4 separate regions of the Homo sapiens genome follow, and all the other regions are reported to be linked to region 1. Evidence: microRNA targets listed by miRTarBase, many of them from high-throughput screens and not tested one by one. Region 1 holds a microRNA gene; each other region holds the end of a gene's coding sequence.

Region 1 (7,123 bases):
GCCTCCCAAAGTACTGGGATTACAGGCATGAGCCACTGCTCCCAGCCAACAGATAATGTATTTTTATAAGATGTGTATGTCAAGACTCAAACTGAAATTATTAAATGTTTATTAGTCAGCATCAGTTGGGATCAAAATTTCCATAATGGTAAAGTGAATTTTTATCTAGAATGAGTCTGGTAACGTTTTTTCTAGAATTTAACTGGAGCATTTACTTGGAAGCAACAGTGTTCTATTGATTTTAAACTTTATTATGTTTATATTTTGTTCTTTTTTCCAAAGCATTTTTCTTCTTTACCTATTTTTTGACTTTTTAATGGATATTAATATATGTAAACCCTTAAACTGCAGTACTGGGGAACATTGTAATTTATTCTTATAGGATGAATTAATGTGATTTCTTTTTGTGATAACATTAATGTTCCCAAATAGCCCACATACTTTTCTGTAATACCTGAAATACGAATGAGAAATAAGATATAAAACTCATGATTCTTTTATGTATTTTATCAACTTTTACAGAGAGGTGAAGATTCCAGTTTAAGGAAGAAAGATTTTCAAATACTTTAGATTAATTTGTGAAAAAAACTCATTTTAATTTTAAAGTAGTAATTCTGTTTAAATTATACTTAATTAGTACTTTATTTTTATGGTGGTTAAAAGTTCACCTCTGTTGTAATTCTCTATGCCAAAGAATTGTACACTGCTATTGCCTTCTTCGGTTAACTCTAAAAGAAGTTCAGTCTGTTAACTAAATCCAACAGTGATTCAGGGGTAGAACTTGCTAGAAATTTAGATGAGACTAGGGAGCAAAGGTTTACAGTTTAGGAATTAGATATGATTTCATTCTGTGAGCATATCCAGAAGAATAATAGAAGCAAATAAATTTCTGTAATTGACATGTTGGCCAGCTGGACATAAATTTACTCATTGTATTTATGTGTAGGTCATGTGAAATATTAGTGTATCATATTGAATTGATTTCATCCATGTCAGGCCAAGTAAAGAAGCCTTTCCCAAAATCATTTCTTGGAAACGATTTAAAATTACAAAGATGGGCATGGTAGTTCATGCCTGTAATTCTAACACTTTGGGAGGCCAAAGTGGAGGATTGCTTGAGACCAGGAGTTAAGACCAGCCTGGGAAACATAGTGAGACCCCCATCTCTACAAAAATATATACATATATATTAGTCCAGTGTGGTAGTGTGCATTGTAGTCTAGCTGCTGCGGAGGCTGGAACAGGAAGATTGCTTGAGCCCAGGAGTTCAAGGATACATTAGGCTATGATCATGGTCACTGCACTCCAGCCTGAGGGACAGAGTGAGACCTTGTCTCAAAAGAAAAATTACAGATTTTCTCTTTGTAATTAATATGGTACTGATTTTTAACATTTATTCCTTTTTAATGCACACACAACAATTTATCTTTGGTAACTACAGAGTGTAAGGTATTAGGTGAAGACTTTGGGAGAGATTTAATAGGTCTTTCCTTTCCTCATGTTTCCACCAAGTGATTTTTTTCTTTGGTTTATTCTTTGATCTAACAAGTTTGGTTTTACTAAACAATTTTTGTTGCCTTCGTTATGTTATTTCAGCACTCAGCATTAGTCATAGGTTTTTTTTCTGTGTGTTCATTGAATACATGAATGATCCACCCTTTTACTTTAGAGAAAGAATATAATGTATAAATGCAACTTAGCAAGTTTCTTTATTTTCTTTAGCCTTGGAGGGGGTACCTTTCTGGGTTTATGCAGTTTATTGACTGGCTGTGAAAGTTTTGAAGAGGCTCTTGAAATGGCATCCAAAGGTGATAGCACACAAGCTGACAAGCTGGTCCGTGATATTTATGGAGGAGATTATGAAAGATTTGGTTTGCCAGGTTGGGCTGTAGCATCTAGGTAAGTTTAACATTTGTGTTATTTAAGTTACAGAAGTTAAGTAATTCAAGTTGCTTATGTTTTTGGAAAGCAATGTAACAGAAAGTTGTAAGGGTGCTTTCTCTTATCCAGTTTAGGTTCCAAGTTTTGAACATTGATGTCATTTAAAAATTAAGTATACATTAAGAAGTTTACCCTGAGTGCACCTTGTAAGAAACTTTTTTTTTTTTAATTTTTGAGTGTCTTTCCAGTGTTTATGCAAATACAAATACATATTTTTACTTTTCTCCCCATATACAAAAGGTAATCTACCATTATATGGCATACTATATATACTCTAAAGTATCCATATAGAAATCTTTACATGTTGTTGACCTTATTTTATACAGGTGTAGGATAAATTCCCAAAAGTTGGATTGCAAATGCATTTTTGAGATATTGTTAATTATGCAAAAGAGCGGTACTGTTTTTCACTCTCACCAGCGGTAAATGAAAGTGCCTGTTTCACCAGTAGAGTGCTAACTTTTGCATTTTTGCTAATCAGATGGAGAAGTGGTATCTTAATGTAATTTTAATTTACATTTCTCCTACCAACACTGGGGTTAAGAGCCTTGCATATTTTATTTTCTGTGAGTTATTGTTCATGTTCTACTTTTCTGTTGGATTGTTATACAGTTGAATTTATCAGTCTTTTCTTTTATGGCTTCTGGATATTGATTCATAGTAAGTAAGTCTTCTACATTCCAAATATATAAAGGAATAAACCCTTATTTTCTTCTGATATGTTAATGGTGGTATTTTTATACTTAAATCTTTGATTTACTTATAGTTTATCTTAGGGTATTTTGTGAGTTACAGATCATGCTTTCATTTTTCAGGTTTTTTGTTTTTTTTTCCAGAAGGCCCTAATGTCTAATAATCCATCTTTATTTCACTGATTTGAGATGGCTTTTTTACATATGCTGGCTTTTCATTCTGTTGATGTACCAGCATTATACTTTCAGCTTTATAGAGGCATAAAAAGTATGTTTTAATCTCTAGAAGGGCTAGTTTCACTCCTTTGCTTGATTTTCTGTATGAACTTGGCAAACATTTTCTCTATTACAAAAATGTTTTTGGAATCTCAGTAAGTTTACATATTAACTTAGGGACAAATGATATCTTTATAGTAAGTCTTGCTGTTGAAGAACTTAGCTTGTCTGTTTGTTTAAGGCTACTTTTGTGCCTTTCACACATTTAAAAAGGCCTCTCCAAATATGTCCATACATGGCTTTTTAAATTGATTCCTAAATATTTTAAATTTACTGTTCTGTTGTTTATCAGTCTTGTCTCCCATTATGCTTCCTAACCATTGTTGCTTGTGCACCCCAAGTTCTTTGTCAGGGAATCCAGTGCCCTTTGATAGTGGACTTTGTCTCACTCTTCAGTAATATCTCCTGCCTCTCCCTTGCATAGACGCTTCACTCCGACCAAACATCTTGTGATTTCATAGATGTTTTCATTTCTCATTTCTGTGTGCCTTTAACCTTTAGTTGCCTCTGCCTAAGATTTTTCTTCTCATTTTTTCTGGCTTTTTCTGGTCCTTTTGCTCTGAAAGCCCTGCCTCATACCTTCTTAACTTTTTTCTCTTACCACTGTAATAAAAGATATTTTTTTGTTTGTATTTCCAAGGTTAGCCTTTGTTTGGGGTTAGCCTTTGTTTGGATTTTTTCCCTGTTACTGTTAGCGCTTCTCTTGCTGTCTTTTGTATGTAGGCCTGCATTGTCCATTACAGTAGCCTCTAGCCACGTAAGGCACTTGGCTTATGAGTGCCACATGTTGAATTGATGATATTTGGATATATTGGCTTAAATGAAATGTACAATTAAAATTAATTTCACTTGTTTATTTTTACCTTTTTAATGTGGCTAATAGAACATATATGAAATTATATATTACTCGTATTTTATTTCTATTGGACAGTGCTGCACTAGACTAATTCACTGTTTGAGGGACTATCTGTCTCCAGCACAAAGCTTGGTATGTCATAAATGTTTCTTGTGACTGAATGAAAAAGAATTTGAAGTTAAAGCTGAGATACTTTTGGAAACATTTTGTAATTTTGGCTAATTTGTTTTGAATCAGGTTTAAGTGAAGATATTTTGGTAATCTTTGCTTTCTTATAATAACTAACTATGCTTTTTTTGAGATGTCATTTTAACCTTAATTCTTTGAAAGGTATTACTTTACTCTTGCATAGATTTTTTTTGTTAGTTTGTTTTGATCTTATCCCTATGTGTTTCTACTTTTTGGTCCTAATTTTATAAAAATATCCAGGTTGTAGATATATCTGTTAATACGTAAAATGTTGCTTTTTATCAGCAGATTTGACTTTATTTTTCATTTTTCTGCAGTTTTGGGAATATGATTTATAAGGAGAAGCGAGAATCTGTTAGTAAAGAAGATCTGGCAAGAGCTACTTTAGTTACTATCACCAATAACATTGGTTCTGTGGCACGAATGTGTGCTGTTAATGAGGTAAAAAAACAAAAAACACAAAACTTGAATTATCAAAAATGTGAATTGGAGTCCTATATACACCTAGCAGGGCTTCTTCACTTTCCCTAAGGAGGCCTCTGGGATTGAGATGTAACCCATTAAATGCCAAGACTCATTAGGTATATATGTTACGTATCCAGTTGCTATATTACTTTTAAAGAAAGTAGCAGATAATTCAAATTGAAATAGGAGAAATTTATTCAGAATTTTTTTTCAGAAAAACACAACCTAAATCCCTTGAGGATGTAAAAGAAAGTTCTAAGCATAAGACATTTTGAGATACTTTGTGAAAGCATTTTTTTTAGTCTTAATTTTGCATTTGGAAGGCAGCTATGCTCACCACTATACCACCAGTGCTTAATGTTGCATTTGATTAGTGAAATTCTTGGAAGTTTTCTTACTGCCCTCGGCTTCTTTACAGTGCTGCCTTGTTGCATATGGATCAAGCAGCATTGTACAGGGCTATGAAGGCATTGAGACCTGTTCTTCATGATATTTGAGTGGTGTTTATTGTTACAAGAAAAGTGTGAAAAGGATATACTGTTAGATTGACCATATAGTTGGGATTCTTTGTTTGGAAGAGAATATATATATTTAATTCTAGCTTCCTTATATAATAATAGATATATTTGCCCGTTTAATTTTTATAAATATCAAATACTTTAAATGGATTGGGAAGTACGCTTTTCGAAGGAACCCTTCATTTGTTCATTCATTCATTTATTCATTGAGTAAATATTTACTGATTACCAGATGCCAGACATCGTTCTGGGTATTTGGAACATATTAATGAAGAAAACAAAGATCTGGCTTTGTGGAGCTTGCATTCATTCTAGTGACATATTAAGTAAATTGTGTAGTGTGTATTAGGTGATAAGTGCTATTTTTTTAAAAAGAGACCATCAAACAGGATAAAGAGGATTGGGAATAGGGCAGAGAGTGGTAGAGGACAAATTGCTAAGTAATTGAGTGGTTAAAGGAAAGCTTTATTGAAAATGTGATTCTTAGGCAGAGGTTTGAAGGAGGTGAGGGGGAAACTGTGCATGTAGACATTTTGGGGAGAAAGCTTCCAGCAGAGAGAACAAATATGCAAATCCTCTGAATTATTCTGTATTTAAATCCAGAACTTGGTCTCATCAGTTTTTTAATAACTTAGAAACTTAAGTGTTAGTTGGTTGATGGAGTTACTAGTAGACCATGTTGGGAGCTGACAACAATTTGAGACCTTTATTCTTAGCCCTTTATGTCTAAATTTCCACTGACCAATTGAGTTAACAATAATTTAGGCCATGGTTTACAGTATCCCAACTTATGTACAAAGATTTCTACTCAAAAGTCAGTATAGTGTGAGAGTCGAAATAAGTTTTCTGGTGATTCAAACACCAGTTCCCCTTTGTAAGATTTCCTAATCATAGAGATAATCTAAGAAACCAAATTAGTGTGGAATCTTTGCAGAGAGAGAATGATTTGATGAATCAGGCAGGGGACGGAGAAAGAATGCTAGAATCCTAGGGGAATGCACATGCCAGTACCCCAGTCAGTATTACTCTCCAATTCTGTAGAATCCACAGTTGCATGTCATTGTTCAACATGCATTGCAATGTGTGGGCCAAGTTTGCTACTTATCAACTAAATGCATTTTATAGTACTTACCATGTTTTGATTTTTTTTTTTAATCACATCAGTAATGTGTCTCCAAATGACTTTGTAAGGGGGCTATTTATTGGCCATTTTCAAAAACAAATCTCACCTGAAATCATCTGCTAGAGTCTTTCTGGAACCTTTTTTTAAAAGTAGACTTTATTTTTTAGATCAGTTTCAGGTTCACGTAAAATTAAGTGGAAAGCTCAGTGAGTTCCCATATACCACCTTCCATACACACACAGCCCACTTCCATCCTCAGCATCCCATAGTAGAGTGATCATGTGTTACAGTCCATAACCCTGTGCACACATCATCATCACCCAAAGTCCATAATTTAGGGTTCTCTCTTGGTGTTACACATTTTGTGGATTTTGGATGATGTGTGCAGAACTAATTTTTAAATATTCAGGATTATACAGCTATATGCCAGGAATGTAGTAGGTGTTATACTAATAAAGCGTAGTTGTGTTTTTTTGCATTTTAAAATAAATTTTAAATAAATATTTAGAAACCTTTTATATTGTAAAATCTATTATTTTTACAAGTTTTTTCTTTGTTCTTTTCTTTTAGAAAATAAACAGAGTTGTCTTTGTTGGAAACTTTTTACGTGTCAATACCCTCTCAATGAAACTTTTGGCATATGCACTGGATTACTGGTCAAAAGGTCAACTAAAAGCATTGTTTCTAGAACATGAGGTATGGTAGGAAAATGTTTTTTGTGAATTTTAATAGCATGTTTTTTAAGAGACAGGGTCTTGCTCTGTCACTCAGGCTTGAGTTTAGTGGCACAATGATGGCTTACTGCAGCCTCTTCCTCCTGGGCTCATCAATCCTCCCACCTCAGCCTCCCAAGTAGCTGGGACCACAGGTATGCACCACTGTGCCCAGAAAATTTATTTTTATTAATATTTTTTGTGGAGACAGGATCACTCTTTGTTGCCCAGGCTAGTCTGGAACTCCTGGCCTCAAGCAATCCTTTATAGGTGTGAGCCACCATGCCCAGCCTTAAGTAGTAGAATATTGGTTCCTTCGCTTCAGTTTCAGTTGTGGGGAAGAGAATTAC
Region 2 (7,123 bases), not on the chromosome of region 1:
TCCAAAAAATGGTGTCAGAAGGGGATCTTAGAAACATTTAGATATTTAAGTTCATATTAGGAACATAACAGTCAGTTCAATCATTTTTCACCTACTGGCCTCATCGTCCTTATGTTTGCTAAACACATAGGGTGAAGAGAGATGTATGAAACTGGTCATCATCTTGCTTATCCTCCTTTCAAGAGTTATCCAAAATACATGCAACGGGGCCATATTTACAAGGTGATCTAAGAATGTGTATGCACAATTGAAGTATACTATATGTGCTTTAAGGAGATAGCAACTGTCATGAAGCAAAAAACCCAACGGAACCCAAACCAAACCCCAAACCCAGTGGGTTACGAGAATAAACCACCACCACTAACAACAATAAAATTCTGTGGCCTAGTGACTAAGGAAATCACAAGGCCAAATGTTATACCAATCCATAGGAAAACCCAAAGAGAAAAGACCTCAATAGCCTCCAATCCCATTTCCTTCACTGTAGCATGTGTTCATAAAAACAGTACTGACAATCTGGAGTTGGCTGACTTTTCCTGATTTTGTGCTAGTTTGACTTGCACTCAAGCCTTAATTTTGCTCCCCACTCAGCTTTCAGGAATGGACAGGCAGAATTCTTTGGGCACTATTAACTTTTCAAAAGCCACTCGCCTATTTGCATATCTCCTGCAATGCGCACCACGCTAACCTTGCCTTGCTACAGGCTCCTCAGGAGACAGATTCCCCTGTCGGCTTTGTTCAGCAACCCAAAATGTAATCAAGTAACCACTCTACTGTAGAGGGAAGAAAGGGAGGGATTTCAGGGCTGAGCACAATGGTGATACCATGGGAAAATTCCAAGAATTCCGTGAACCACAGTCCTCACCCCTGGTTGTGCCCCTGCCTCACTAATCTTTCAGATTAGTTCAGCCTAATGAAAACTAATAACATATAAAGCAAGTAATAATATTCACCGTCCATCTTTCTTTCATGTGCTTTTTGCTCACTCTGCAAGTCCTGATTTAGCCAAGCTGAATTCTCAAAAAGCACCACTAACTGCCTCCTGGGGCTGCTTCATTTAGTGCTCCTCTAGGGGAAGGAAGTAACTGATAAGAATCCAGCCGCTAAAAAGTCATTATTTGTTCATAGACAGTATGGAAGAGGTCGGTCTGATAGTTTCTCTTTCCCAAGGATCATGGATTCAGTTCCTCAACACAACAGACTCTTACTTATCATAGCTTTTCTTTCATTGTGTATAAATATCAAAATATGATAGAAATTCACGCCAGCCGCTCTTAGAATATTTTCTCACTCTTTAGCATTACTGCATTACTTATGAGTTTAATTTCTTCCTGGGAAGGGAAGAAGTTCTTTATTTCAGATGTTTTAATATTTTTTTAAAATATAGGTAGGTCTCACTACAAGGCAAACTAAAATTATCAGCAGTATGTTATTTGATGGAAAATATTCTTATATTTCCTTTTCCAGTTTAAATTAAAAGTATGGCTACCAGGAAAAAAAAAGAATCATTTTTCTCCTTGCTGCATAAAAATAGGTCAAGTAATTTAAGCCAGTCCATTGCAATTAAAATTCTGACATTGCCATTGTTCCTTCTATTCTAGGGGGAGAAGACAAACAGAGCCCATGATAATAGGGGTTCACTGGCTGAGTCATTTGATGTGCTACCTATTGTTCTCTTCTGGAGGCTCAGCCTCAACCTGCCTGGGAGCGCTGATTTTGATGATAGTGGTGCAGTCCCAAAATGATAAATACCATCTCTGAAGCATGCATTTCTGAAGAGGTGTACTGCTGCTTTCATGCTAGCAAAACATTTCCACTGCAGAGGAAAAAATTGCCAATGGCATGGGTCTTAAATTCCTTGAATTCTAAATTTATTTATTTTTTGGAGACAATGTTATCTGCCCAGTTTATTTTAAAGTAAATTTTACTGACTCAATTAGACAGCAACACTCATCCTCATTAAAGATCCTGCAGTCCTTTCACAAGATTAGGGCTGGTGGCTTGGTCACATTCCAATGTGGATAATTGCATTCTGCATTCCTGGATATTTCCCTCCACCTTTCCAACCTCATACCGTCAAATGCATTGTTATTTACCCTTACTGCAAATCAACAGTCCTGTTGTGGAGGCGCTGAGGGTTTGCCATCCCCTCAGTTTGCAGGCTAAAGCATCAGCCCAAACCACTGCTCCTTACACTTTTAAAAGAAAACCCCTTAGGTAATGCATATTTTCAAATATGAGGCAAATCTCAATTATGCACACTTAATCATAGGTTAAGGTTTTTGGTAAGTAAAATATTCTTATTTTATAAAGGATGTTTATTTTGGAATCTTCTTTGATTTAAAAAATGTGTTGCTCGAATATGTGCTGTTTGCTCAAAGAAGAAAACAAAGTCTTCAGAAATGGCAACAAAACAAACAAAAAAGCGAAAAAGCTCTTGAGGAAACAGCTTTTCATTGACCTTCTAAATAAATTCCACAAGGGGGCGAAAACACCTAATGGTCCGGGGCTGCAAAGTTTTTATTGCAAAGCTGGCCACCCATAATAGATTAGTGGATTAATATTTTTCTCTAAAGGATCTGGCCTTTAATGTTGACATCAATTTATAGCCATCCCAGGCGTTTACAGTAGTAAAAGTCATGGAGACCATAAACTTCACAATAGATGTCAGCCTTCTGCTACTAGTGCTCTAGCCCAGCACCCCATAAACAGTGGTGATTAGGTAACTGTTCTTCAAAGACCCATCCATAGCTCTAACGTCTTTATCAGCTCCCGCAAAGATACTGTCACGAGGATTTTATCAGGCACAAGACAGAAGTATACGTTTTTATTAATGTGGACTTATTTTTCTGACATGTAGCTATGAGGTTGCACTGCAGCTTATCATTGATCTCTTCTTGAAAATCAAGCATGGAGTGTCTATTTTTGGGCAAAGCTTAAAGAACAGAAGCTCTCTTGTATCATATTAGAACTTTTTGACAAACAGCCAAGGTACAGAGGTCAAATTTCCCCATATGCTATAAGCAACTTAGTAGGAAGCAAGACCACAAAAGGTTTTGCAAATGTCTGCCAGTAGCCGGGTGATCTAGGTCACTGTACAGGTTTCATTAATCAGGTTGTTGAAACAAGGAGTTATTTTTCTCTGCTTAAGAGACCTGCAGATATCATGTAGAATCTGCTCAATTGTTGATCAAGAAAGAGTTTTTAATGAAACAGAGATCACTCAAGTGAACTGGGGTGCGGGAGCGTTTGTATTTGTACTGAAGACAAATTGTGCTTTTTAGCCCAGCTCCTCTGTTTGAGTCCTCTGTTCTGGTAGGGATGGGCTCAAGATCTAATAATAGTTCCTTGGGCTCTGCATCTCCACATACGTGTTCCGGCGTTTGAGCAGCAGGAGGAATTTAGTGACAGAGCAGGTGTTGTGGCTTATTCCCTGGCAGAATAAATGGTGAAGGGTGGTGGCAAGACAATTCTTTGGCTTCTTTATGCAAAAAAAAAAAAAAAAATGCATTTAATCACTTTCCTTTTTTCCTGGCACTAGTGAAAAAGGATTGGAGTTGCTGTATTAATATGTATGCAAACATATTTTTTCACTTAAGCCTCTGGAAAAAAAAAAGAGAGAGAGAGAAAGAAAAACTTACTGTGAAAATGCTTAGCCAGAAAGATTCATTGCTGATTGCAGATTTAGTATTGACATGTCTTAGCTGAAGAAAACTTCAGCTTTAACTATTAATGTGGAAATCTGGATCAGCTTTTAAAGTAGGGTAAAAAGAGTTTTGGATGATTCAGTATATTTATTTGAACATAATTTTAAAGAAGAAAGTGTCAATTATAGAGGTATATAAAAAACCCAGTGGAGTGTGTGCATTTTAATTTTACATGGCCTACCTTGGAAATAAAATTATAAAATGCAGGTGATCTGAATTATACTTAAAGCAGCCTTTATGCCCAACTTACTCTCTCATAACACTTCTAAATATCCGCTCCTCCTGATTTCTTATAAAATATGGAATTTAAGATGAGAATCGGAGTCTAAATGAAATGTTCTTTTAAAGCATTATTTATAAGATTTTCCTCAACCTACATTTTTTACTTCCCCTAGTAAGTTGCGTACAAAAGTCTGTATTTTTTCTTGAAGGTAGGTGTGTTGCTCTTATAAACATAAGATAAGCCATGAAAACATGAAAAACAAAATTCCTTCTCCTTCCACCTGGGATAATTTGAGATTTTCACAATATTACTTTTTCCTTTGCTTGATTATATAAGGCAAAACTTGATACCCACTTAGTTGTAGCTATGGTCTTCTTGATAAGACATCTATCCAGGTAAAATTAAAGTATAATTTTCAGGTGATTTGCATCCCATGCATGCAACAGGAAAACTCAGAATTCAGGAAAACAGGGCATGCTTAAGAGGGAACATCTTGTAAAGACTGTAATTTGACCTTTGAGTCAACCTGAGTACATTTTAAATATTATAGGACAAAAGCCTCAAAGTGGAATTCTGCCTCATCTTTCTCAGAACTATAAACCAGTCAGACACTGTTTCAGAGATTACGCTAGAAAATATGTACCTATCCTTGGCACTTTTGCTGAGAAATAAAACTCTCATCACTGGAGATAAAGGTAGATTTATATTTAATGCCACCCATCAATCAATCAGTGTATTATTCCAATCTACCTCTATTTAAGTAGTTGAATCAGGTATAAACAGAAACACTTGATTTTTTTTGCCTCCTGCCCATTGAAAAAGATAATGTTGAGTATTGCAAACCTTTCTAACTCTGGAGTACACTTGATATGATGGCAATTAAGAAAAAAAAAAAAGCAGTGACAACTTTGCAGCTTTTGATTAAAGCACACCAAGAGGCATGTTACAATGATAACAATGAAGCATTATGCCAATTATGTTAAATCCTGCTCTCCGCTTAAGCTCATCATGACCTGTTTTAGTGTCCTGTAATTTATCCTTTGGAATGCTTACTCTCATCAATAGTGTTCAACTCAAAGACGGGGGGAAAAAAGCCACCAAAGGGAACAACCACCCCCAAATGACTTCTAGAAAACAAGTTATTTCTTAACTTTTTATTGACATTGGCAAATTAAAATAGAATAAATTAACAAGTATTTTTTCAAAAAAATGTTTTGTACAAAAATACTGTCAAAATTTCCTAAAAAGCTTTCAACACAGTAGTATCTTTTCATGTACTGAATATAACTATTAGCACAGTGTCAAAAATGTTGAAGACAGAAACAAAATAAAAATCTGTGAAATGTTTGCCACTGACGACATTCCACACCCTATTATCATCTGTACATATGGGGGTGGGGGGGGCGGCGGGGGGGACAGCCAACTTGAAAGTGAACAGTATGACTTTCCTGATCCAGAACAGTTTGGCCCACATCTGTTTAATCTTCCAGTTTAGCATATTTTAAAAATTAGTCTGTACTCAAATGCATAGTTAAAAAAATGAAGCGAGATGGCAGTTTGTGCAGTAATATCTGCCCTTCGAAGTTCATGCAACCAACTAATGCAATTTTTCCTTTCACTCGTAAATCTGAATGCAGTTCAGTCATTTGAAACCATCTACAAAATCCACAAGATTAAGCAGTTTGCCAAGATTAATATCTAACAGTTGAGCACTGGAGAAAGTGAGGGAAAGGAGTAAAAACAAACAACGAAAAAGACCAAGTTAGCTAGATATTTCAACTACATAAGGGAGGTGGGTGAATGTCAAGGCTACAAAAACGAAACAAAAACAGGAAAAAAAAGTGGCAGCAATTTTTTTTAAAACCAATTTGTACAAGTTTATAGTTTACTTTGTTTCCAAGTTCTCAAACCTTTCAAGATCTGAAAAGTGAGATACTGTGTCTAAGGGAATGTTTCTTTTAATTCACGCCGAAGAAGTTGGGGGTTTGATTTCTTTCGCCGGGGTTTCGATCGAGTCAACAGCTCACTCTGCTGGGCTGCTGTTTGCACACGAAGTCCGTCATAAAATCAAACTCGTTTTGCCCCAGCCAGAGTTCGGGCAGCTCCTTGATGCGGTCCAAACCCATTTCTATCACCAAGGACATAAGAACTTCCTCGTCGATGAAATCAGTGTCTATGACATTGGGCGGCAGCATTGCAGCGGGGACGTGGGCCACGGAGGCGGGCATGTTGCCGCTGCCGCTGCCGCCGCCGCTGTTGCTGCTGCCCGCGCCGCCGCCCGAGCTGCTGCCAGAGCCGCCGGGGGTGCTGCTGCCGCCCGAGCCGCCGGGGGTGCTGCTGCCGCCGCTGTGCTTGGGGTTGCAATCTCGGAAGTGCTGGTTTGTCCCGTTCATCTGGTGGCCTGCAGCAGGGTGCAAATCCGGCATGTAGTGGTTGTGGGGGTAGGGGTGATGGTTGAAATACTGGTTGTTGAGCTTCTGCAGCTGCATGCTGGCCGGCAGGGAGCCTCCCTGGCTGGCCACCGGGGGACCCATGAACTGGGAGTTGTTAAACCTGGCCGCGGGGGCCAGCGCGCTCGGGGGGTGCCCTCCGTTCACAGTCCCCGGCCCCATCGCATGCCTGATGCCGCTCGTGGCATTCATGTTGCCCGCGCCGTAGTGTATGTGCTCGCCCATTAGGGCGTTGAAGGCGTGCTGGGGCTGCTGCTGCTGGTGGTGATGGGGGCTCGGGAACTGCCCCATGCCCATGCGGTGGGCAGGGTGATGGTGCAGCCCATTGGTGCCGTCGGGGAAGCGCCCGTGGTTCATGGCCATCATATGGTCTGCCATTTCCAGTCCTGGAAGTGAAAAGGGCAGATAATGAGACCCGCGCCACACGTGTCGCCCACCACAGCGCACCCCACTTTTGCTCGCCTCTGCCCCCCAGGATTCCCGGGCGCACGTCGGCTGCGAACCACCACCCCCAAGATCCCACTAACAGCCTGTGCACCCGGGCTAGCCACCACGGAAGAGCTACCACTCATAACACAGCCGGACGCTGCACAAACAGCCCCTTCCCCTGCGATCGGGCGGGGGGACCCGAGCCCACACCCCCTTTGCTCCCCGAAGTGGCCTAATAAAGGAAGTGCCCCGTAGCCCTGCTGCGAACTTCAGGCATTAAATCAGCCCTCCTCATCCTGTTGTTGCACATCCTG
Region 3 (7,123 bases), not on the chromosome of region 1:
GGCTGCTGGGCCTGACCAGGCCAGAGACTGTTCCAGAGGAATGGGGTGGGGAGGCCTCCCAGGCCGAGCAGTGAGAAACGTGACCTCTGGTCTTCTGGCTGAGGCCAGGAGAGCCCCAGGTGGTCACATGGGCCCCAGGAGCGGCCGGGGAGGCTCATCCAGGGCATCATGGTTCTGTGGCCTTGGGGAGGGGCGGGCCTCCCGGCAGGCAGGTGGCTGAGCTCACGCCGCCCCGTCCTCACAGTGTACTGTCAGAACTTCGCCCCCAGCTTCAAGGAGAGCGAGATGAACGTGATCGCCGCGGACATGTGCACCAACGCCCGCCGCGTTCGCAAGCGCTGGCTGCCCAAGATCAAGTCCATGCTGCCGGAGGGCGTGGAGATGTACCGCACGGTCATGGGCTCCGCCGCCGCCAGCGTGCCCCTCGACCCCGAGTTCCCGCCTGCCGCGGCACAGGTGTTCGAGCAACGCATCTACGCCGAGCGGCGGGGCGACGCCGCCACCATCGTGGCTCTGAGAACTGACGCCGTGAATGTTGACCTGAGTGCCGCCGCCAACCCCGCCTTCGACGCCGGCGAGGAGGTGGACGGGGCTGGCTCGGTCATCCAGGAGGTGGCCGCCCCCGAGCCGCTGCCCGCCGATGGCCAGAGCCCCCCACAGCCCTTTGAGCAGGGCGGGGGCGGCCCCAGCAGGCCCCAGACGCCGGCGGCCGCGGCCCGGAGGCCGGAGGGCACCTATGCAGGGACCTTGTAAGCGGAGCTGGGTGGCTGCGCGAGGGACCGAGTACTAGAGCTGCTTGCATGCGTTACTAATACAAACAAATGTGATCAAGCCACTTACCTACTGAACTGCTACTGTTGCCTGAGAAAAATGTGATTTTTATTCTGCTTGTATTTAAAATTGATGAAGGAAACAAATGCATTCATTATACTGTAAACAATTAGGCCACTGGCAGCCTCCTGCGAGGAAGTTCCCAGGGCTCCCTTTTGATATTCACAAGGTCAGCCTCCAAGTGTAGCTTCCCTCCCCCTTCTTGGGGAGGGTGGGAGGCCGCCAGGCCCCTGGTGCCCAGCCCTGCCCCTTCCTCCCTGCCCTTCCTGCTCCTCCTGCCCGGAAGACGAAGCAGGGGCCGGCGGTGGTCTGTGGCGAGGGGGCTGGGCTGTGCGTCACTGACCCTTCCTTCCTTCCCCATGGAACCTCTCTGGGGCGACGGGGCAGGGCTCAGGCTCCAGGGCCTAACTCCTCGTTTTTCCTTCTTTCGGAGACTCGGGGCCAGGCCCACCGGGCCTTCCACCTGTGTGGGGTGTGTGCACGAGTGTGTGTGTGTGCGTGTGTGTGCAGGGGTGTGGTGAGGGGGCAGTGATGGCTGTGGCCCACCCCTCGGGGTGGAGAAAAGGGTACTTTACTCTGCCCCCACACCCTGTCCTTGTTCTGCCCGATCCGTCTCGGCTCTGCAGCCCCTCGGTCCCCTGACCCCCAGGGCACCGCTGACCCCGCCTGGCCTCCCACTGTCCCGCCCGGGCCCACTGTGGGACGTGCACAGCTGATGTAGCACACGCTGCCCTCTGCCGCCTCAGCCACTTTGGGATTATGCTTGTCTTGTTTTTTTTAGGTTTTGTTGTAATTTAGATCTATTTCATATATGGTTTGGAAACTTTCAGACTCAATAGAACAAAAACTTTGGGTGGGATGGGTGTCCCTGTCCCCAGCCCACCATGGCTTGGGGTGGGTCATCTGTGGCCGTTAGGGTGCGTCCCCCTGCTCCCCCGCCCAGGGCCAGGGACCACTCGTCTCCCACTGGGGGAAAAAGGGGGTCCCGGGTGGGCGACTAGTACGTGTGAAGCTGAGCTCAGGGCCGGACCTGGGGAGCGGGGGACTCCGCTCGGGCAGGAGGCAGCGGCCAGGGCTGGGCCAGGGCGAGAGTCGGTCCTCCCGGTGCTGGGCTCCCCGTCTGCCTTGAGGGGTGTGCATGGATGGAGGGTGCCTGAGGCTGCAGGCAGGGGATGACCGGGACAGGCCTGGGCTGGGGCAGTTGGAGGTATGGGCACTGGTAGGGGACAGAGGGTTAGGGATCATGTTGGGGGGCCAGGGACAGTGGAGGAAGGGCCCATGGAAGATGGGGCTGTTTGGTTTGAGGCTGGAGTGCTTCCTTTGAAATTTAATTACTGTTTTTTAAGTGGTAGGGCTCACAGACTGTGTGAAGTCCTGTGTGAAGTGCTGGTGTGGCCACCTACCCAGGTGTCCCTCCCTTTTGTTTTGGAGGCCTGTGTCCTTGTCCAGGGGCAGCCCTCCTTCCCAGGTGTGGCCAGAAGAACCCCCCATCCCAAGACTTGAAATGTCTGTTGCTCACCTCTGTCCCTCCAGAACTCGGCTTCCCCATCTTCACTTGCAAAACAAGTGCAGCCCTGCGCCCATCAGCACCCCCTCCGGTGTGCACACAGGCCAGTGAGCGGTGGCCGACCAGCGCACCCCACTCCCCCAACCTCCACAACCCATCAAGCGGAGGCCGCCTCCGCTAGGGGAGGACCATGTGCTGCACCCTGGCCTGGGGACCTACAGGGTGTGGGTTAGACGCATTCCCACTGGGCGGCTCCTTTCTGCCCCGAAGCCCACCCCTGTGGCGAGGCCCTAGGAGACCTCCCGTGGGGCCGCCTCTACAGACAGCACTCAGCCTCCTGGGCTGCCTCCAGCCAGGCCCAGCACATGCCTGCCCTCCAGAAAAATACGTTGCTTTCCAGAAGGAGGTGGGGGACCATGGGCAGGCACTGTGGACGCTAACCTCGGCCCCTCCACCCATTCCTCAGGGCCCACGTCCAGGGGGACCAAGACCTGCATTCCTAGGGCTGCAGGTGGCTCAGTGGTGCAGAGGCATCCAGACCTTCTGCTGAACTAAGAACCACCCAGCCTAGAGGGAGCCTTTCTCTGCCTCTTCCTCCCCTGTCTTGGGCACAGGTGGGGTTGGAGCCCCCATGGGGCCCGCTGGGAACCTGGACCAAGCCTTCCTCGGAGATGGGAGGAAGCCGCGGGGTGGAGCAGGGGCAGGTAGGTGAGGTTGAGCTGCACTTGAGTTCCCTCTGGAGTTTCCTTCATCTGCCCCACACCCAAATTTGCACTTTAATTTGACCATCCCTGGGGGCCTGGCTGCTGACAGAAGGGCTCTCTCTGCCCTCCACTCCAAAGTGGGTGCCCCCCCACCCTTGGCCAGGACAGGGAGGGAGCCGCTGGCTGCTGCCGGAGGTGGTGGCTGCACAGAGGACGCCTGACTGCTGTTCAGGCCCGCACAATGTCCCGTGCCCCTTCCTCACTCGTTTGTAATCGCCGTCTGTTTTGTTCTGGGTAAGGAAGGCAAGAGCTATAGATAAAACTTAAATAATAATAATTTAATGTGAATGGGTTCTGAGCTCTCCCTGCGCCCCGGGCGGGCCAGGCCGAGCATTTTGCACTAATGTGTCCCACGGTGGGCGTGAGTCGGGAGTGTCTGTGGACGTGCGTGGCTGCTGAGCGGACCTGCTGTGTGCTCCCTCCACGTCCTGAATGTACCGTGGGGCGGGGGCGGCGGCCCGGGCTCAGAGGGGCCTTCCAGAGTGCCTTAGCATCCTTTGATCATTTTTCCCAAGGAAACCAATTAAGAAAGCCGGACCCTTCCCTCCTTTGTTTACAAGATGACTAATTCTAGAATCCGGGGTTGTCCTGTCCTGTGAGTGTGACCCTGACTCATCCAGACCCTGTAGAGAGAGACGAGCCACTCAGTATTTATGAGATGTCTGCACCTTTATCCCTAAGCCTGACTATTAGCAATACGCATATCCTATATAGAATCTATTACAGAGCTACGTTATCTCCACACCTTTTGAGGAGGACAGAAGGGACTGGACCGTGTTGGAGCTGCCGCCTGGCAGGTGGTGGGCCTGGGATCTAGCCGCCTCTCCTGCCCTGCCTTCCTCTTCCCCAAGGGGATGGGCCCAGGAGGCAGCTGGGTTGCATGGAGAGGTCCAGGAGGGACCGGAGGTGTGACAGATACTGTGAGCCCGGCGGGCCGCGCCTGGCTGGGTGCCTCGGTACTTGAATTCTGTCTTGTTTTCCGCATTGTGTCTGTCCACCCGAGTTCTCTGTCGTCACTTAACTTTGCATTGGATTTGGTTGTTGTACTTTGCCCCTGAATGTGGACAAAGCTGTGGGCAAGAGGTCAGCAGGACCCGCCTGGGGGTGCCGGCGTTGGTGACTGCGGGTCGGGGCTCCTAGAACATAGGAGCCGGCTGCCTGGCCTCCTTTCTCCTCCAGGAAGAGTCATTCTTTGGCATTTGTGTTTAGAGCCAGGAGGAAGGCGGAAGGTAGGGAGGGAGGGCTGGTCCCCCTCTGAGGGGGCTCTAGTGCCTGACCCTGACCTGTCCTCATTCGACAGCTGAAACTGTTAAGCGCTGGCCCAGTCCCCCCACCCCACCCAGCCGTGTACTGCCTGGGCTCCCCTCAAAGGGAAATTTTTATGGAAACATCTTGGCAGCAAGTGGAAAAAGATCTATGGCCCATGAACCAACTGAAAACTCCAAGAACCCTCTGTCTGCCTCTGCCAGCAGCGAGTCCTAAGCGCAGAATCCAGAGCTCGTAGCTGTCCTCAGCTGTAACTACTGTTTCAGAATGTTGCTGCTGCATACTTTTGTCATGTCAGCCAGCCAGCTCCGTGGGTGAGAGTGTGCGTGTGCGCGTGTCTGTGTGTGTGTGCGTGTCTGTGTGTGCACGTCTGTGCGTCTGTGTGTGCGCGTCTGTGCATGTGTGTGTCTGTGCGTGTGTGCGTCTGTGTGTGTGCGTCTGTGTGCGCGTGTGTGTGCGCGTCTGTGTGTATGTGTGCACGCGCGTCTGTGTGCACGTGCGTGTCTCTGCACGCGTGTCTGTGTATGTGTGCACGCGTGTGTCTGTGTGTGTGCACGCGCGTGCACGTCACCACCGGAGCATTTAGGGTTTGGTACAAGATGGTTCTAAAATGGCAAAGGTTTTTCGTGTTTGTTTGTTTTGTTTCTTTGGAAAAAGAAAAGGAAAGGAAAATCATGCAGAATCGCAAGCATTCAGACTGGACGACCGGCTCGTATTCCGATCAGTCGCTTCCATTGTTAGCATCGTACACGATTGTGATTTTTATGTCAAAAGAAGCCAAAACTTGCAATACTATTTTTAGCAGACAAAAAAAAGAACTAAGTATAAAATGTATAAATATTTTTGACTTGAAGATTTGGATGGCACTGGGTGCAAGTAGAGCATCCATCCTTCGGATGGAATGTTTGGAAAAAAGAGACTTTTAAAAAGGAGACGGTTGTTTTAAAGAGTCTGTTTAGGGGTTAAAGTACTGTAACTCACGACTGTTAAAAAATAAATTTTCCTGTGCTGTAAAGGAAGGTTTCACAGTACCACTGAGTTAGATTTCAGCCACAGATGCTTAGCTTTTTTTTTTTGTCTTTTTTTTAAGGAGGAAGCCTTTGTTTTGTTTTCCTGAGCCCTCACTCTGTTTTTGTGCTGTTACTCGGTAGAGTCAAGACTGTTACTTTTTAGCCATGGCTGACATTGTATCAATAACTAAAACTGAAACATTCAAAAGCGAACAGGGAAACCGAGGGCTTCAAGCGTGCTCAGAGCCGTTTCAGACAGTGGAAATCCATGACAAACAAAAGGATGTGATCATTAATTGTAAAGCGCTTTGTAAAATTCACATTTACAAAATAATAAAGTCAGTTCAAACCTAAGTTTCCTGGACTTGGCTTGGCCCTGTGGGGTTTGGGGGAGACACAGAGAAGCCAAGCTTGGGCTATTGAAGGCAGGGGTGGCCAATGGTCCCCCAGGGGCACCCTCAGGACCCCGTCCCTGTTAGCGGCGTCCCCAGGCCAGCTGTCCACACAACAGGGCAGGGATCTGGCTGTGGGGTTCAAGGTCACCTGACCCATCTCTTGCTCTCCCCAGTGTTTTACAAGGGAAGGGGCAGGTGGGTAGGATGTCTGCAGGTACTAGTGTGCCTGCTAGAGGGGGGCCCTGTCCGGACCCGCAGGCAACCTGCCAGGGTCGGGGGGTCTCCTTTTCGGGACCTTGGTTTTATTGTCTGAGAAGTGGGGCAGCCCCTTCATCTGCCTCACCTGCCACCCAAAAGGTGCGTGGCTCCTTCTTTCCCTCCCCCTCCCCCACCCCCTCCCGGGCCATGTCTGCCCCCAGGTGAACAGAGAGACAAGTGCAGGTGGGCAGAGCTGGGCCCGCGGGGTTGGCCTTCTCTCCAGCTCTGGGGCTGGTGTCCTGGGGTTCAGGCTGCGTGGCCAGCCCCATTCCCTTTTGCTCCTCTGGCGTATCCACAAGGACAGGCTGAGTGCTTTGCAATCATGTGTCCCCCAGACCTGTCCTGCCGGGCCCTTGATGGGTGCCTCCTACGTCTGGAAGCACTTTCCTCTGGATACCTTCCTGGCAGGCTCCTCACTTCCTGCGGTCCTGTGAGGGTCTCGTCCAGGGGACCACCCCTGATCACCTTACGGGCACCCCTCCCTGGCCTCTCTTCCCCTTTCACAGGGTTCATGGCACCCGCCGTACTGGAGGGAGGTGGTGGATTTATTGGGCAGGGCTTCATGGCCATGTTCCCAGAAGAGGGTCCTCTGGAGCCAGCATAGGGCAGCCCCTGATTGTCTCAAATGGATGGATGTGGTTTCCATATGGGCCCCCTGGATGGAAGGGCCCATGTGGCAAGGGGATGGCGCTTGAGGTCACCCTGAGCCATTGCCTCCTACAGGAGCCACATCACCACACTGTCCCCACCAGGAATGCCCAAGGGGTCTGTTCCCCAGTGGGGGCCAGGGAACACGGAGTGTTCCAGTCCCCATCCCACCACCAAGCCCAGCCCCAGGCCTCCAGGGTAAGTGTATCCGACTCAACTTCCTGGAGAAGGAGCAGAGCCCCCAGCTCTCAGGGCCAGCACCTGCCTGGCTGGTGGGGAGCTTGGTGAGGACAGACAGCTTGGATGCACACCTGCAAGACCCCAAATGCCGCACCCAGGTGGGTCCCAGGCCCCCTCAGCAGCTAGGACTGCTGAGGTCTGGGTGGCCCAGTTAGGGGAGGGAGGGTCGTGGAGAATGCCCCACCTTGGCCCAGGAATCCTGCC
Region 4 (7,123 bases), not on the chromosome of region 1:
CTGAATTAGTATGTCAGTGTAGTACTATCTGAAGAAATCTAAGAGCTATTAAAATGCTTAAAAATAAAATGATCAATTCTTCTTTTGTTCTCTTGACAGGATAATTGAAGCTATCTGCATAGGTTGGTTCACTGCCGAGTGCATCGTGAGGTTCATTGTCTCCAAAAACAAGTGTGAGTTTGTCAAGAGACCCCTGAACATCATTGATTTACTGGCAATCACGCCGTATTACATCTCTGTGTTGATGACAGTGTTTACAGGCGAGAACTCTCAACTCCAGAGGGCTGGAGTCACCTTGAGGGTACTTAGAATGATGAGGATTTTTTGGGTGATTAAGCTTGCCCGTCACTTCATTGGTCTTCAGACACTCGGTTTGACTCTCAAACGTTGCTACCGAGAGATGGTTATGTTACTTGTCTTCATTTGTGTTGCCATGGCAATCTTTAGTGCACTTTCTCAGCTTCTTGAACATGGGCTGGACCTGGAAACATCCAACAAGGACTTTACCAGCATTCCTGCTGCCTGCTGGTGGGTGATTATCTCTATGACTACAGTTGGCTATGGAGATATGTATCCTATCACAGTGCCTGGAAGAATTCTTGGAGGAGTTTGTGTTGTCAGTGGAATTGTTCTATTGGCATTACCTATCACTTTTATCTACCATAGCTTTGTGCAGTGTTATCATGAGCTCAAGTTTAGATCTGCTAGGTATAGTAGGAGCCTCTCCACTGAATTCCTGAATTAATGCATTGCAAATCAATTCTTGCATACACTTCATAGAAAGACTTTGATGCTGCTTCATATTTATGTGTTTCTTGCTGGGTGAGCACTGCAGTGGCATTGTCATCATCTTGGTAGGGTAAAAATTATCCTTCCCAGCCGAAGGGATAAAACAGTTTACTTGTTATGGAGTAAATAGAATTGAGACTGCAAAGGAAGAATAATGACTCCTAGAGTAAACTTTAGGACCCGGTTTTATTTAGACTTGTTTTCCCGTTTCCTTGAATGATTACACATTTTTAAAAAATACATTATTTGAACATTTTAAAACAGAAAGGTACTATTTTCCAAATGTTTTTCCATCTTATGAATTCAGAAGAAGCTTGGAACTTATAGTGTTTTTTGTTTGAGAGTAACATTTTCATTTCTAAATGTTTTATAATTTCTCATATCAATGTCAGAAGTATCCTGGAAACATATGTCACATGCGGGAACTGTTTAACAAATACTTTAAAAATTTGGCCAAAATTTAAACTGTATAATGGAGCTAGATACAAGCAAGAATAGTATTTGAAAGACTTTTCCAGCATACTTCTCAATTCTTTGCTTTATTTTTGTGCCAATTATTCACCTTATCGTGCCGCTTCATGGAAGCTTGAGTATGTTCTCCCTTTTCCATTTTGGATTTATCTCTTTACTGTAATGACTCAAAAGGTATTTAAGAATTGACGAGAGCTTGTGTTGTTTAGCATCTTACTGGATAATATTTGAATTCATTGCTGTTCCTAGGTGATAACTGTCCTAATATTTAGATGTCCAAACAAGAATACTTCCAACATAAAAATTATAATAGGAATAATTTGAGATGACTCAATATTACAACCTCTTCTTCTCTTAACCTCCTCCCCCAAACACTAGAGGTTTAATAAGACTTATCAGATGAAAGGATATTTATATAGCCTTTTAGTAGCAAAGTCATACTTACGTGTTGTCACTGGATTATCATAAAAGGGAGAAATTAAATATTACTGTACTCTTAGTTGCTGTGTAGCTAAGTCAATTTTAAGCCAGTAAAAGCGATGGATACATAATGATTTGATCTGATCTTTAACTATTGTGAATCACAGCTACACCAAAACTCTTCTTGTAAGAATACTGACTAATATGCCATGTTAATCTGGCTAGATTATTAGGACTAGATAATGTAAAAGTGATGATTGTTTAGTAACTAAATTTTAGCAACAGAAATTAGAATTTTGCTTTTTCAACCAGTTACCATAAAGAAGTTAGTGTATATATAAACACAAATAATTAGTGACAGATTCATAAAAAATTGAATGTTGTACACAGTAATTTTGTCAGAGGTAGAGAAGACAGGGATTGGGAAGTGGTGGGTGATGGAGGACCTGGATATATTTATCAAATAAAGGGTTACCAGAAGTGTTCATTAAAGGAATTTTAGCCATCATCTAGTTCAAACCTCAACTATTACAGGTAGAAAATCAGGGCAGGAGAGAATATAATTGTGAAGGAGTCAGGGCTAACACCTGGATCTCCAGAAACCTAGCCCAGCAGGTTAATCTTCACACATCTCTGGGTTCTGAGAAAAGCCTGGAAAAATCACACTTCTTTGTCATTGTCATGCTGAGGTAATAATAGCAAAACTGTTTTCTTTCCCTTAATTTCCTTTCCTAAGCTTATGTAATAGTTTGGCCATTAAATATCTTGCCCTATTTTCCCTATTACTGCTAGTATGCTACTTCTTACATACCCAAAAGAAATTCAGTTATTTATTGTATATTTATTGTATTCTAATATAATTGAAATAAATGGCATGGATTTATTTTTTCTTAACTATTTGGATTAAAGCTTTGTGGTTCATGCAAACAATGTGCAGATGATAGCACCTCCATATTACTAATAAAAATATGATAACCATCAATTTTACTGGTACTGGGACCGCTTTATGTGAATATGTCCTATCTTCCCAAGTAAATTATAACTGTCTTGAGAGCTGGGATCCTCTCTCATGCATACACCTTTGTATCCCCGACAGTGTCTGTTACAGACTTGGGCACAAACAGTTGACTGATTTGAGGGGAGAAACTTCTGTGTGAAGAGACGAGGAGAAGCATATACCTATAGGTATATATATACACACACACCTATATATATATATTTTATACATACATATAGGTATATATATGTGTATATATTTTATATATAGGGATATGTGTGTGTGTATATATATATATAATGTACATGTGCAAATATACACACAGACTTCATGCTACCCTTAGGTAACAAGTGTGAAATCTCTTGTTGGTGATTCCAGACTTTCCATAGGACCGATTTTCATAAAGAAGCATGTTGGGTAAATACTAGTGGCAGTTAAGCTACCCATTTATAAGGAGACGATGAGACGTGATAGAGTAGTTCATTCATAAATGAAAAAATATGTATTAGGGTTTTGTCTTCATGGATGTTGTGTTTTTTTAGGAACAGCATTTTATTGTAACGTTCCCTGAGCGTTGCTACTTTTATCATTATTTATCTATTTATTTTTTTCTAGAGATAGAGTTTTGCTTGGTTGCCTAGGCTGGAGTGCAGTGGTGTGATCATAGCTCACTGCAGTTTTGAACTCCTGGGCTCAAGCAGTCCTCCCACCCCAGCCTCCCAAGTTGCTAGGACTATAGGTGTGCATCACCATGCTGGTTAATTTTTTAATTTTTATTTTTTTGTAGAGATAGGGGTCTCACTGTGTTGCCCAGGCTTGCCTCAAACTCCTGGCCTCAAGCAGTCCTCCCACCTCAGCCTCTCAAAGCTCTGGGATTATGGGCATGAGACACTGTGCCTGGCCTGTTGCTGCTTTTTTAAAAAACCATTAAGTATCACTTCTTTCTTAGCTATACTTACAGACATCTCTTATAACTCAGTCTTTTCATGGCAGAAATGTTTTCATTAATATCTGTATTGGTACCAGTAAGTCAGACATTATCCTAAATTAAAATACCCAAAGAGGAAAAAAGCCCTAATCTCCTAATCTTTAATCTGATTTTACCACACCTGAATTTACATGACTTGATCTAATATGTAACTTGTTTTGTATTCTCTAAAATGGGAGTTTTAGGATTACAAACACAAAATTAGGGAATATATTTGAAAGTGAACAAACTAACAATTCAAGGCTTTCATTACTGTATTGTCCTTGTTGCTAATTGAAACAGTTGCATTTGTTCTTGGGTTTGGTCATTACCTATAAGTACCCATTTGTAAGTTCATACTTTCTGAAAAGTTATTTCCACAATGGCTGTCAATAAGTCAAAATTATTTGTCTTTTTAAACCTTTGTCCAGATGTCCTGTGATCTGGAAGAGGTGGAGATGGGGTTAATTTGGATGTTGGTGTTGGGAGAATTTTCCCTGTTGGCTTGGTATTTGCTAATAGCAGTTTATTTTCCTTTTTTTTTTTTTTTTTTAAAGAAAACAGACAAAAAGATGCAAAACAATATTTGAAATATTAAAGCCTCAGGATAGAATTTCAGACATCCCTTCTGTCCACTTCACCTCTTTTCCATAGAAATGAAAAATAAAACATTGAAAGCTCCTAGCTCTGTATTACTATTCAGCTGTGTAACTCCAAACTTAATGCATAGTGTCATAGAATATTTCGAGTCCTCTGACCCTTCATAAATGTGCATTCCCTTATGGTGTGTAATATACAATTCAATCAGACATAGTCTAATCATTTTATAGGGTCATAGGAAGTTGGAACTAGGGGTTGTGGAAACCTTCTGGTCTATTTTGGCCCAATTGTATGCCTTTTGTCCGATCCAAATATTAGCAACCAGGGAACTCTGCTCCCAGTGGGTTGTAATTTAGCCATGGTCACTCTAGTGTCAGGTTAGGTCCCAGAAGCTTGATTTCCAGACTTTTGGCTTAGTACTCTGGATATACTTCCTTTAAGAATCTTGTAACTTCGGAAGCCATGAAGGATTTCTTTTAAAAATATTTTCTTGGCCAGGCATGGTGACTCACGCCTGTAATCCGAGCACTTTGGGAGGCCGAGGCGGGTGGATCACCTGAAATCAGGAGTTCGAGACCAGCCTGGCCAACATGGTGAAAACCCATCTCTACTGAAAATATAAAAACTAGCTGGGCATCGTGGTGCCTGTAATCCCAGCTACTTGGGAGGCTGAGGCAGGAGAATCACTTGAACCAGGGAGGCAGAGGTTGCAGTGAGCCGAGATCGCGCCTTTGCACTCCACCCTGGGTGACAAAAGTGAAACTCCGTCTCAAAAAAAAAAATTTTTTTTTATTTAGGGCTTTGGTGTTCCCCGTATTTTTCCTTTTTCTTTTTCTTTTTTTTTTTTAACGTTTGAATTAAAAAGCAATTATTGCCGGGCATGGTGGCTCACGCCTGTAATCCCAGCACTTTGGGAGGCCAAGGTGGGCAGATCACTTGAGGTCAGGAGTTCGAAACCAGCCTGGCCAACATAGCGAAACCCTGTCTCTACTAAAAATACAAAAAATTAGCCAGGCTTGATGACACGTGAATGTAATCCCAGCTACGCAGAAGGCTGAGGCATGAGAATTACTTAAACCTGGCAGGTGGAGGTTCCAGTGAGCTGAGATCGTGCCACTGTACTCTAGCATGGGTGACAGAGGGAAACTCTCTCTCTCTCAAAAAAATCATATATATATATATACAATAATATATAATTGACAGTTTATTTTTATAATAAAAATAATATTGCTTTTAGAAGCCTTAGATGTCAAGAAGGAGGGCTTGAGACAAATGCATAAGTAACTCAGATTTTCTCTAGAATTTTAAAAATTACTGTACAGTTGTGCACTCATCCACATGTATCCAAATAAGTACAGGTATTTGATAGTTGTCACTGCATTATTCAGGACATTCTCAGAACCAGGCTGAGAAATGTCAAGTAACATGGGTTGAAGCTTTGATGGAATGTTCTGGAAAGTTCCATTTTGGTCAGGAAAGGTTGCATCCATTTACTTCTGTGTCTGTTCAGTGTTCTTTCCTATGGTGTTTCACTTCCTGATTTTCCAGAGCCCATCTGCACTCAGAAACCTGGGCATATCAGTTCTGCTTCTGAAAGTAGACTAATGATTTACTGCCTCATTTGCAGTGAAGCCTTCCATAGATTTGTGAAATGTCATCCAGAAGCATGATTATATTGTCCCATTCTGTGGTTAACTTATGCCCAAACTTTCAGATTTTTCTAGATCTTCCAAATATTTTCAGTAAGTACTGGAGCTTTTGACTGTTAGCATAAGCTCAATTGTCAGTTTACTACTATTTGCTTAGAAAATTGAACTTGATAATCTGCATTTATGCTGTAATTTAAACAAATACATTTTAAGTAGCTTTGGTGGGAATTCTTTGGTTTATCGTTTAAAATATCAACAAGACTATACCAAATATAACATTTAGTACATGAAAGTGAAGGGAGAATATTATTTGGCTTTCACCTACCAGGAGTAAGTGATTCTATGTTATTTATATCTGAAGGAGTGCTTTGATGTACTTATTTATGCAGCATTATATTAAAACTAAAACTAAAATTTCCCGTAATTTTATATTAGATAGGATCACTATTTCTGTTATTTGGAAATAATTCTATAGTTCTGCCCATGACAGAGTGGAGGCAGTTTGTAGTGTGTATTGGTTTGTTTTTGTTTTGTAGTAGAGACAGGGTCTCCCTATGTTACACAGGCTGGTCTCAAACTCCTGGGCTCAAGCAGTGACATCTGCTGTAGTAATATACGATGATTTGTTCAACTTAGGTATTATTTTTCAACTGCATATTACAACCTCGATCTTATAACTCTGATGGAATTCCATGCTTTCTTTCTCTACAATATAGAGGGCAAGATAATTTTACTTTCTTAGTAGAGAGTAATATTTATAGTTACAAATTCTGAGCTGTGATAAAAATGGAACGTTTATTATGTGATTGTAGTGACAGAAAATTTTTTTTTTTTTTTTTTTTTTTTGGAGACAGAGTTTCACTCTTGTTGCCCAGGCTGGAGTGCAATGGCACAATCTCAGCTCACTACAATCTCCACCTCCTGGGTTCAAGCAATTCTCCGGCCTCAGCCTCCCAAGTATCTGGGATTACAGGCGCCCACCAACATGCCCTGCTAATTTCTGTATTTTTAGTAGAGATGGGGTTTTGCCATGTTGGCCGGGCTGGTCTCGATCTCCTGACTTTATGTGGTCTGCCCACCTCAGCCTCCCAAAGTGCTGGGATTACAGGAGTGAGTCAACACACCCAGCCCACATATTTATTTTTTAAAACCATACCTATGTCAGTGCTGTTTGGCAAAATAAAAAAAAATTAAACCATATCCACGCTTTTATACTATACACTCTGAAGT

What was found. Region 1 holds the annotated microRNA hsa-miR-103a-3p (AGCAGCAUUGUACAGGGCUAUGA, at 4,862-4,884, shown strand). A microRNA usually pairs through its seed, bases 2 to 8, with sites in the 3' UTR of a target mRNA and lowers its output. Matches are read on the target gene's strand: a 7mer-m8 pairs with bases 2 to 8, a 7mer-A1 pairs with bases 2 to 7 and ends in A, and an 8mer does both.
Region 2: the mRNA of CITED2 is a reported target of hsa-miR-103a-3p. The part of its 3' UTR that is shown has no 7-base or 8-base seed match.
Region 3: the mRNA of NACC2 is a reported target of hsa-miR-103a-3p. Seed matches in the 3' UTR shown: 7mer-A1 at 2,532-2,538 and 7mer-A1 at 4,643-4,649.
Region 4: miRTarBase lists KCNG3 as a target of hsa-miR-103a-3p. Seed matches in the 3' UTR shown: 7mer-m8 at 791-797.

The regions. Positions count from the first base shown.
Region 1 is chr5:168,558,665-168,565,787 of GRCh38, reverse strand. MIR103A1 (microRNA 103a-1) reads left to right here and starts at 4,815; the gene lies at 4,815-4,892. It overlaps PANK3 (pantothenate kinase 3), which reads left to right. Exons shown (of 7, transcript NM_024594.4): 4 at 1,723-1,899; 5 at 4,272-4,395; 6 at 6,631-6,756. It overlaps MIR103B1 (microRNA 103b-1), which reads right to left and starts at 4,884; the gene lies at 4,823-4,884.
Region 2 is chr6:139,367,187-139,374,309 of GRCh38, forward strand. It overlaps CITED2 (Cbp/p300 interacting transactivator with Glu/Asp rich carboxy-terminal domain 2), which reads right to left. Exons shown (of 2, transcript NM_006079.5): 2 at 4,621-6,766. The coding sequence starts at 6,758. The coding sequence ends at 5,946. Among named protein-coding and RNA genes, the nearest start is that of CITED2, 3.9 kb to the right of the region's middle. RefSeq lists enhancers at 1,633-2,451, 6,561-6,620 and silencers at 6,171-6,270, 6,841-6,990.
Region 3 is chr9:136,005,146-136,012,268 of GRCh38, reverse strand. It overlaps NACC2 (NACC family member 2), which reads left to right. Exons shown (of 6, transcript NM_144653.5): 6 at 245-5,732. The coding sequence ends at 753. Among named protein-coding and RNA genes, the nearest start is that of UBAC1, 47 kb to the right of the region's middle.
Region 4 is chr2:42,437,556-42,444,678 of GRCh38, reverse strand. It overlaps KCNG3 (potassium voltage-gated channel modifier subfamily G member 3), which reads left to right. Exons shown (of 2, transcript NM_133329.6): 2 at 100-2,662. The coding sequence ends at 745. It overlaps LOC124900542 (small nucleolar RNA SNORD75), which reads right to left and starts at 4,302; the gene lies at 4,243-4,302.